Linked DNA regions of Homo sapiens. The protein of the gene in region 2 purifies or fractionates together with the protein of the main gene of each other region. This does not show direct contact. Each region holds a gene or a part of one and is shown on either strand. Other genes may lie near its edges. The genes, in order: CPVL, TSPOAP1 and CEP170.

Region 1 (3,651 bases), on a different chromosome or scaffold from region 2:
CCCAAGCAGGTAAAACGTTTGAAGGCTTGGAATGTCTTTTTGACCATTGGTCCCGTATCTTGAGTGATGAATTAAAACAAGACCTTTGCTTTTTCAAGGAAAATAGATAAAATGATACTTAGGACAGTAAACAACTTGTGGTTGAAATGTGTTTCAGTGACTGCAAAGGAAGACTCCAACAAATCCTGAAACCCAGGGGAATATAAATGTCAGAATCTCAAGCCTAAAATGATAAAGCCTGTTTGACGCTCTGATCCTTTAAAATGATTTAATTAATCAAAGAGTAGTAACTCAGAGCTGGAGAGTACTCTGGAGATAGGTCATCTACTGTCCCTATGCATTTACATGCACACACACACACACACACACACACACACACACACACACACACACACACACACACACATTTACTGGTGAGTGGAGAGGATGCCGAGCCCCAGGGGATAGCAATGAATTGCCGAAGGATACACAAATAGATTGTGGCAGGCTGAGGACTGGAATTGCTTCCCCCATTTCCACCACAGTATTTATCCTATGGTAATTTTCAGGCATTCTGTAAAAATCCTGGATCGTCTTAGATATTCTGCAAGATGTGAAATGACTGATCCTCTGTCCAGTATTACCTCCCTTTCCATGATGATTTTCTGAATCACAAAGTTCTTAGTTTCACAGGTCTTGACCACCCATGTTATTTTTTGACAACAACTGACTTTTTCTTTTTTTTTTTTTTTTTTTTGAGACGGAGTCTCGCTCTCTTGCCCAGGCTGGAGTGCAGTGGCAAGATCTCAGCTCACTGCAACCTCCACCTCCCAGGTTCAAGCCATTCTCCTGCCTCAGCCTCCCGAGTAGCTGGGATTACAGGCACTCGCCACCACGAATGGCTAATTTTTCTTATTTTTAGTAGAGACGGGTTTTCACCGTGTTGGCTGGGCTGGTCTCAAACTCCGGACCTCAAGTGATCCGCCCGCCTCGGCCTTCCAAAGTGCTGGGATTACAGCTGTGAGCCACCATGCCTGGCCAACAAATGACTTTTAACTCTTTCTAAAAGCAAAGTTATTCTTCAAGGTTGACTTTATATTCCCACTGGTGTTGAAGATAATTTCTAACAATGAGTTCCAAAAATGATGTGTGCATTCAGAATGACCCTGGCCTATGGTGCCCCATCTGGGTGAACAAATTAGAAAAAGACACCTCGGCCGGGCGCAGTGGCTCACGCCTGTAATCCCAGCACTTTGGGAGGCCGAGGCGGGCGGATCACGAGGTCAGGAGATCGAGACCACGGTGAAACCCCGTCTCTACTAAAAATACAAAAAAGTTAGCCGGGCGTAGTGGCGGGCGCCTGTAGTCCCAGCTACTCGGGAGGCTGAGGCAGGAGAATGGCGTGAACCCAGGAGGCGGAGCTTGCAGTGAGCCAAGATCGCGCCACTGCACTCCAGCCTGGGTGACAGAGCGAGACTCCATCTCAAAAAAAAAAAAAACAAAGAAAAAAAAAAAGAAAAAGACACCTCCTCTGTGGTGATGCAGTCCTGTGGGTTCAGGACGGGGCAGGCAGATGCCTCCATTGTGTGAGGATAAGAGGTGGCCACTTCTCCAGATGCAGCCCTGAGCCAGGCTCTCCAGCTCAGCGAGCAGAACTTTGGCTGGTTCCCTGTCCCTTTGCACCCCTTAGCCACAGGCATCGCATGGAGCTGCACAACCAGATGTGGGGCCCTGAGCAATGGTAGCATTGGTAGAGAATACTTACTACCACCTCCACCCACACCGCCTTCTATGGTGATAACCCTTTTCATTCTTGGCCTCTAGCCCCATGGCAATAGGAACTTGAATAAGTTCTTTCATGTTTGAAAAAGAATATGAATACAGGCCGGGGGCGGTGGCTTACACCTGTAATCCCAGCACTTTAGGAGGCCGAGGTGGGCAGATCACAAGGTCAGGAGTTCGAGACCAGCCTGATCAACATGGTGAAACCCCGTCTCTATTAAAAATACACACACACAAAAAAAAATTAGCTGGGCGTGGTGGCAGGCGCCTTTAATCTCAGGTACTCGGGAGGCTGAGGCAGGAGAATTGCTTGAATCCGGGAGGCAGAAGTTGCAGTGAGCTGAGATCTCACCACTGCACTCCAGCCTGAGTGACAGTGCGAGACTCCATCTCAAAAAAAAAAAAAAAGAATATGAATATAATAATTAGTCTATTTTCTCAAGCATTGAAGCATGGCCAGAAGGAATTGGCAAGTAGGAAGCATTGCAGGCTGACTGCTGGGAGCCAGTGTGTGCGTGGTTGAGTGTGCAGGCTCAGGAGTCGTGGCCTAATCATCTCATCTCTGACATTATTAGTGAGGTGTCCTCGGCAAGTTGCTTAAACTCATGTGTCTCAGTTTTCTCACCCATAAAATTAGAATAATAATACCTTATCTGATAAGAGACCTAAATTTGTACTTGATAGATTGTTTTTAACATGTGCTGACTTCATTTCTTTGAATTCTTTTGTAAGAACTCCTTACAACTTAATATCATCATCAACAACCCCCCTCCATGTCTTCAACCTCTTCTGTGACTATTTTCTTCTCTTCATCTTCTTGCTTTGCCAGAAACCTGGCTCTCCCCTGATGCTGCAGTCCCTGTGGTCCTCTTGAGTGGGGGCTGTTCTCTCTCTTAGCTTGTCTGTATCACTTGGTTCATAGGTGGAGTAGGTGTCTTCCTTGCTCATCATGTGACTTTCAGATCATGTTCCCTGCCTCCTCCTAAAGCATTGAGCTTTGACTCTCCTGTCCTCAGACAGGGCCTCTGACCACTTCCAACTGTGTCTGCCTACCAACCCCTGGTTACTCCCTCTCATTTGAATAGCTGAGCTCCTTCCTCCCTGTCACTCTCTGCAGCATTATTCTTGTCATAATTCCTGGTAACTGCAGGATCCACATTGACGATCCTTTTGGGACCTGGTCCTTGGTGCCTCAGCCTCCTCTTTTTCAATGATCTTGTTCTCCTCCTCATCTTAGCTGCTGATTCTCATACCCTAAAATGCTGGCAGCTGATCCACAATCACACATTCAAACATCTTTCTCCAACTACCACCTCCTGTCCGAATCTCTTCTGCTAATGTACTGATCTTACAGCCCTGCAACCTCACTACCTTTCAATCCATTGATCCTCCTGCCTCTCCACTATCTCTAACCCCCTCAAGTCTCCATTTCTCTAATTACCTGTCTTCAACCCAGGGTCAGTCATTCCATACATTTCCAAGCCCAAAGCTCTTTTGCATTTCTTCCAACTCCTTTGGCTGAACCACAGCCCTGGCTCAATCTGCCTCTCTGTCAGGCTGTGCTTGTCTCCACACAGCTGACAATGGCTGGAGGAAAGCATGCAACCATGCTGACTGCTCTCCCGCTCAGCTGGTGACTGGGTTTTTTAATGTCAGCCCAAAGATAACTTCCACCAGCTCCAGGAACCTGCATCTGCACCATATCCTGCGTCTTCTCTCCATGTCATCTGGTGAGCAGTTCATGATCCATGTTAAGGCACCCTTCCCACAAGGCTTACTCCCATAGGCAAGGCCTTTGAGCTTACTGTGTCCTCTGCCTGGAACCTTCCTTCCCCTAGATGTCTGCATGGCTCTATTCCTCTCATCCAATATGTCTTTACTCAAATGCCA
Region 2 (3,651 bases):
GAAAGGGCGACCCTGCCCACAGGCCGCAACAGGCGACTAGTGATAGAATATTGTGCATCCCAGTCCTGATCAGCAGAAGCAGCAAAGCAGTGGAATGTGGGTGGGAGGAGGCAGGTGAGGGAGCCCGGAGGCCCGGCCCCACCTCTGCTGATGGAGGCAGGCAGCGTGGAATGGGAGCTGCTGGTGGGCAGCAAGCAGGGCCACCAGGTGGCAGCAGGCAGGGGCTGCCCAGGGCGGGGAGTGAGCACGGACCCGGGAGAGTGGCTCCTTGGCTCTGCCCGTCGCACTGCGGCCTCTCCGCTCTGGTTCCCCTTTCTCCCAGGCTGGGAGGCGTGGGTAGGGCTTGGGGCCTGAATTGGCCTTCGGAGGCCCCCTGGGCCTTCCTACAGTTGCTGTGCCCCAGGCCTCCCCATCTCCAGGGTAGCAGGAGCTGGTGATGCTGATGCCCCCGCTGCCCGCCTCCTGCTCATCCTCCGAATCATATTCAATGCTGATTTCCAAGCACTTGGGGGAAAGGCAGCTGGCCAGGCCAGGCTCCAGCGCCCGGCCACGGGAGCACCTCCGGGAAGGGCCCAGCCGGCCTCTCCCGCTAGCCTCTAGTCCAGTCCTGGGGCCCTCAATTACGGGGAGGCCACCCCTCTCCCGTGTGGGGCCCAGTCGTCCAGAGGCCTGGGGCCCATTGTTGCTGAGAAGTCGGCTGCAGTGTTCTCGGGGATCTGGAGGCCGCCTGCGGCTTGGGGGCTTCTCAGGGGAGCCCCCTCCTCTCCTCCGGCTGCTTCCACCAACTAATCCAGGCATGTCTTCCAGGCAGTCTCCAGCCCTGGAGGACTCAGGAGACAAGGGACACTGGCCAGGTCTTCGGGGCTGACCACTGTCACAGCCCAGCCCCAGCAATGCAGGTTCAGGCGGGCCAGGGTCTCGGGAAGAACAGCCTGCCCCTGACTTCTCCTCCTCCTCGTCCTCCTCTTCCTCTTCCTCCTCCTCCGGGATGCTAAAGAGCTTCTTGCTACAGAACTGCTGGAGGGGCAGCTCCAGGATCTGCTCCAAGATCTCCTCATCGCTGTCAGTCTCACAAAAGGGGTCGGGCTGGGACTGGTGGAGGTGGGGAGGTGGGAGTAGAACACAGCAGGGAAGAGAGATGCGTGGGGAAGAGGAGAGCGAGCTGCGATCTTTGCCCTCAAACGAAGGCAGGGGTTACGGACAACCCCACAGCCCTCCCACGGCTTCCTCCGAGAGGAGAGAACCAGAGGGACGGTGGCTGGCCCAAATTCACACACATATCCAGTGAGAGCCAAAGGAAGAATTAGGGAACACACTCTAGGAACCATCACCAGCCCCTGTGGGACAGGAGCATTGAGGAGCAGGCCTCCCCATCCCCTCCCCAGAAGCTACCAGCACAAGGATCTTAGGTGGCACCGGCCTCCCCTGGCCAGGGCGCTGTATCTGGTGGGCTGGAGGGAGAGAAGGTACAGAAATGAACTCCTCCCCTTCCCCTTTCTTTCCAGGAGGGCAGGGGCCAATCCTGGGGCACTTCCTATCTTCTGCTTAGGACAGGGCCCAGGCCACAGACCTAGAATGTTTCTGGCACTCAGTGGTGGTCAGAGCACCTGCTGACACACAGTGGGGAGGCCCCGGAGTTTGAGGCCTGGGGCCCAACAGCCCATCCCTACCCCGTTACCTTGGCCCCATTCTCCCTGATGCTGTTGCCAGCAACCTGCTTCTGGAAGGAGCAAGTCCTGGAACCCAGCTCCTCTTCCTCCTCCTCCTCCTCCTCTTCCTCTTCCTCCTGGATGTCTGACAGGTCTGAGTTGCGGCCGTGGTCCACGAGGGAGTTCACCAGATGAACCCCAAGCTCTGCTGTGTCCTCCTTCTGCAAGAAGTGAGGCAAGGCAGGAGAGATAAGGACAGTGAGGGGGCACAGGGGGTTCCAGGCAGGGTCAGCCCCAGCCACAGTAACAAGGGTCCTTTGGCAGAGGGAGAAAGAGCCATGTCCTAAATGGGGGAGGCACACCATGGCTCAGGGGCAGGGTGGGAGAAGGGAGATGGGAGCCACATGGGACAGAGAAATCCTAGAAGAAAAACAGACACATAGCACAGCCAAAGGTGTGAGAGCAGGACCAGAGCAGAGGACAGGCAGAGAGGGCAACTGGATTTGCGCTGGCAAAAGGTAGGGAGACAGGCCTCAATTCTCTGAAGTGACACAGTGTGTCCCCAAACCCCTACCTCAGCCCTGGGCCTCAGCCCAGACCCTGGGTCTCCTCCTTGGCACATCTCGGTATTTGGCGCCTGCTGGGCCCGTGCTCCCTGGGTGGAGCTGGAGGCCGGACAGGCCTCTCCTGCAGTCCACTCGGCCTCCTGCTTGGCCAGTGAGGGAGCTGCGGGGCCAGGGTCCTTCTCACCCAGGGTAGATGTGCTGGCTGTCCTCTCCTCTGAGGTGCCCAGCACTGCTGCCCCAGCCTCCTCCTGGAACAGAGAGCACTGAGGAAGGACCCAAGCCCAGGTCCCTCTGCCAGCCTGCACCTGCTCCCCTCTCCCCAGACAGGGTACCTGGGAGCAAGGTGCTGGAGGGTCCTCGTGGGACCCTTTTGCCATCTCTCTGGAAGGGCTTGCAGGGGGTGCTCCTGGAGGCTCTTGAGTTCCAAGGGGAGCAGGGTGCTGGAGAGGAGAGCTGGGGTCTCCAGGCCCTGGGGAGGCTGAAGCAAGGGGCGCTCTGGCCTCTGGGCTTGGGTGCGGTGAGGGGCAGGAGACTCGGGCTGGCAGGCTGGCCGGAGCCAGGGCGGGAGTGATAGGAGCCGGGATGGAGTCCGCCGACTCCCCGTGGGGCGACATGGTGCGCACGACCACCTCACGACACACCTGCAGCAGCTGCAGCTGGGACAACTCCACCAGTACACTGCCTGCCGTGGGTGAGGCCACCTCCATGATCTGCAGGGTGGAGGGGGCACAGGATGGGAAGCAGAGGCTGAGACAGCCAAGCGTGAGGATGCACTGACAGCAGTGGCAGCTAACTGACAGCAGTGGCAGCTAGCATTACGCCAGGTACTGTGCTAAGCCCTCTGCATGGCCTATCTCATTTCATCCTCCTGGCCATATGGCTTCAGTGATGGAACAGTTCTAAAATCTGTCATGTGCTGCCAAAGCCCATGCTCTTAACCCATCTGCCTCATGGTACCCAAATGCCAGGGGCTGGGCATCTCCGTGCCAAGCCAGAGAGCCTAGACCTCTGAGCATAGCAAGAAGGGACCCACCCCCACTCCCAGGGTACAGTGGGCAGGGCTATACCTTCTGCCCATCAGCGTAGATGGCATAGCCTGTGACCCGGACACCGTTGGATGTGCCAGCAGCATCGATGGTGACTGGGAGCCAACTGATGATCAAGATCCCAGGGGAGGGCCCAGGCTCGATCTGCACATCCAGAGGGGCATCAGGTGGGCCTGGGGGCAGGGGGGCACAAGACCCAGTGATGCAGGACGCTCCCCATCAGAGATACCTGCCCAATTTGCTATTTCCCTGATAACGCAAATAAGATCAGGGTCCCCTTCTTCCGTCACCCATGGCCTGGCCTCCTGGGTGTTCTGGACAACAGGGCCCAAGCCCACATACCTGCTGGGAGTGTGGTGAACTGCAGGGTGGCAGCCCGCTGCTCCAGCC
Region 3 (3,651 bases), on a different chromosome or scaffold from region 2:
TTAATACATGCATAAATTCTTTACTGTTTATCTTATTCTTTATTGAAAACAAAATATAAAACAAATGTAAATGATGTTATGACCTCAAAACTTTAATATTTATAATTTACAATACAGTAATGCCCTCTTATCCACAGTTTCTCTTTCCATGGTTTTAGTTAGTGGCAGTCAAGCATGGTCCGTAACTATTACAGTATTTTGGGAGAGGGAGAGAGAGAGAGAGAAAAAAAAAGACCACATTCACATAACTTTTTTTTACAGTATATTGTTACAAATGTTCTATTTTATTATTAGTTACTATTGTTAATCTCTTACTGTGCCTAATTTATAAATTAAACTTTATCATAGGCATGTATGTGTAGGAAAATACACAGTATATTAGGTTTTAGAATTATCTGTGGTGTCAGGCATCCAGTGGGTATCTTGGAACAACATGTATCACCTGGGTATAAGGAGAAAAGACTGTGTAACTGTCACTTATAAAGAAAATGCAATTTTATTCAGACAGAATATATGCAGTATAGGAATAAGTGAGATGAAAATAGGTTGAATTAGGTATAAACAATTGTGTCTGTTAAGACCTCTTTATATGGGAATAAGCACCTTATCGATCAAGAAAAGTGTGTATATTATTTTGAAGACAAAAAATTGGGAGTACTTACTGTGCTTTTCTTTAACAATTGTTAATTCGTGTTAGTATACTTGCACATAATAACCTATTAGGAATTAGGATGCTACCCTTTTGATAAAAACAATTGCCAATAAAGATAATTATCCTATCATTACCCTAACATCAAATAACTTATAAAATAAAGGACCACAAAATTTTGACGTGTCTTTCAAATGTGGGACACTTTTCTAACACTTTAGAGTCTATCAGACATGATTCAGCAGTCTTAGATGTAAATACTAGCTACTTTTTTGGTTTCTTTTAAATTTTTTTCAGTAAGCCTGGAAATCTAGTTTAAACAACACTATATAACCTCATGTAAATGTATTACTACTGCAAGCTGATCAGCATTTAAGTAGTAAACTAAGTTAATATTTGTGCTGGTATTTCTTCAAAGATCAACATGCCAGACTTACCTTATTTAAAAACATGAAACTCATTAACATCACATCAAGTCTGGAACATTTGCTTAAGGTGGCAACGGGTCTAGAATCTGGTATAAGAATATTCTTATGGCCTACTTATTAAATTTTCTAAACTCAAAAAAATGAACACCCTTGCCAGCCATCTTTTCTAAATTATTATGTTCTTGTAAAAGAGTCCTTGCAGCATTAGGACTGATGGAAAATAAGGAAATAATGACTATTTCATGGACCAGCTTAGAACTGTAATGGACTTATACAATAGAGAAAGACTCTGTTTAGCCACACAGTGCTAAAAATTCAGTGAATTTTTCCAGAGGATGGCTACTGAGTATAGTGTTTGTGGATCTAAAACTGTTAAACCATAGACATTTCACCTTTGGTGAAAATGGGTTTTTCACGGGTTGCCCCTGAAAAAAAAATGCCCCCCTGAAGAAATAAATGGTTTATTTTAAAATACAGTTTGTTGGCCAGGCACAATAGCTCATGCCTGTAATCCTAGCACTTTAGGAAGCCAAGGTGGGTGGATCACTTGATGCCAGGAGATCGAGACCAGCCTGGGCAACATGGCGAGACCTCGTCTCTATAAAAAATACAAAAAAATTAGCAGGTGTGGTGCAGATGCCTGTAGTCCTAGCTACTAAGAAGGCTGAGGTGGGAGGATTGCTTGTGCCCAGGGAGGTCGAGGCTGCACTGAGTGAGTGAGTTGTGAACATGCCACTGCACTCCAGCCCATCTCAAAAACAAAAAACAAAAAACAAAAAAACAAAAAAACAAAAAACAATTTGTAATATATAATAGAACAGATCTAAGAAGTCAAACTTGTCATTTTGGCATTATGAAATAAACTTTACTATAATATTTACTATAATATTTAATATTTAAATACTAGAGAATCAGAAAACCAGACCAAGAAATTAGTTTAGACCAGGCTATAATGACCAGAACTTGTTTTTGTTTGAAGGTCCTTATCAATTTTAAGCTGAAAAAATCATAGCTTTCAAAGTGATATTCAGATTATATTATAGATTCAAAATAAGCTAAACTTCAGCATGAAAATACATAAAATTCCAAAGCTTATTTCATTCAATAATTTAAGAATTAAGTTAAAATACTTTTGATAAAGCCATTGGTTTTAGGGAAACAAACAGAAGTCTCAGGCTCCTATTCTATGAGCCATAACCAATTCCCTAGTACTAGCCCTTAAAACATGCGAACGCGGAGTTGCGAATTGAGAGTCTACCAATGCAAGGCCATGCTACACAACCTAAGGGGGTCATTTTCACATGGAATGCAATGAGAATGCTGTACAACAGGAGTTCCTGTATAAATATTTAAAAATGGATTCCACAGACAGTGTTCATACAATGTAAGTACGCATGCCTCTAGGATGAACCCCAGTAGACATTTGAGGTTATAACTCCTGACACAAAGCTTAAAGACCAGTTGATTCTCAAACTACCCTGGCACTTTCCACGCAGAAGGCCCAGGTCTCTACCCCTTAGGTTTGGTTATCACAACTCAGACCTACCTTTGAATAGTATCTTCTTCCCAAAGCCTTCCCTAAACCTCCTAGGTGAAAGTGATCCTTCCTTTGCCTTTATATCTCTAACTGAGCACTAATCTATTATACGCTATCTTGTACGACAGTTGATTGCATATGTGCCTCACCTTGCCAACTACACTGGAAACTCTTTAATAATAGAAATGGTTTTATCCTCATTACCTTCCATAAAGCCTGCCATAGTGCTTTATGCATAGTAAAACTCAACACTCGAACTGAAGGCAATTCAAATACATTAAACATTCTGTATTTATGTATAACTTTATTGAGGCATTTTTATGCATCCTTTTTTAAACTTTATAAATTCTGTCACTTTCTGAGACAACACAGGTTATCAATCCATCAGCAATGTCTTCTTTGTTCTCAATTTTAGTTCAATGTCAAAGCTACAAAAAATATTTTTCTTTGGGGGAGACTACAGAACGTAGGAAAGCTGCTCCGTGGTAAGGAAGAGAATGGTACACAGCAGGTAATCTGTGAACATCTGCTGAATAAATGAATGAGTGGTTAAGACTCCAGTTAGCAGGGACGGACCTGTATTTCAGTAGGTAGGATGAAAAAACACTGTGTACTTGTTTACAGGTAAGGAGACTCCAGGGTTTTCCAGGTGCAAGCCACATGACCATACAAGACTCTCATGATATTTTTACAGATAGCACTGGTGTATCAAGAGGACCCATATTGGATATATTAGCTTCCTATGGTTTTTAATAATAAAATCCAAACTCCTTAACAAATTCTGCCAAAACAGATCCATCCTCATCTCTCTAGTGTCATCTCTCACCATACTCTGGCCCTTTCACTTCACATAGCTTTTGAGTAACTCCTCTCCTCATCATTCAGGACTTAAATTGCATGGCAATTTCTCTAAGAGCCCTTCTCTGAATTTCCCAAGTGCCCTTGCTATGGGCTTCCATAGTAACCATCCTATATTTCCCTTAACACACTGAACTATAATTAACTGTTTACCTGCCTTCTACACTCAAATGTGAGGA

The links.
Region 1: the proteins of TSPOAP1 (region 2) and CPVL purify together in Homo sapiens (pull-down; one large-scale study listed by IntAct). This does not show direct contact.
Region 3: the proteins of TSPOAP1 (region 2) and CEP170 purify together in Homo sapiens (co-immunoprecipitation; one large-scale study listed by IntAct). This does not show direct contact.

The regions. Positions count from the first base shown.
Region 1 is NC_000007.14:29,066,526-29,070,176, reverse strand, and holds part of CPVL (probable serine carboxypeptidase CPVL isoform b precursor), read left to right. Parts: intron 1-3,651. UniProt on the Homo sapiens protein: May be involved in the digestion of phagocytosed particles in the lysosome, participation in an inflammatory protease cascade, and trimming of peptides for antigen presentation.
Region 2 is NC_000017.11:58,308,289-58,311,939, forward strand, and holds part of TSPOAP1 (peripheral-type benzodiazepine receptor-associated protein 1), read right to left. Parts: coding exon 3,604-3,651; intron 3,435-3,603; coding exon 3,283-3,434; intron 2,926-3,282; coding exon 2,548-2,925; intron 2,464-2,547; coding exon 2,224-2,463; intron 1,871-2,223; coding exon 1,679-1,870; intron 1,093-1,678; coding exon 253-1,092; intron 1-252. UniProt on the Homo sapiens protein: Required for synaptic transmission regulation. It probably controls the recruitement of voltage-gated calcium channels to the presynaptic membrane, and modulates neurotransmitter release.
Region 3 is NC_000001.11:243,129,650-243,133,300, forward strand, and holds part of CEP170 (centrosomal protein of 170 kDa), read right to left. Parts: intron 1-3,651.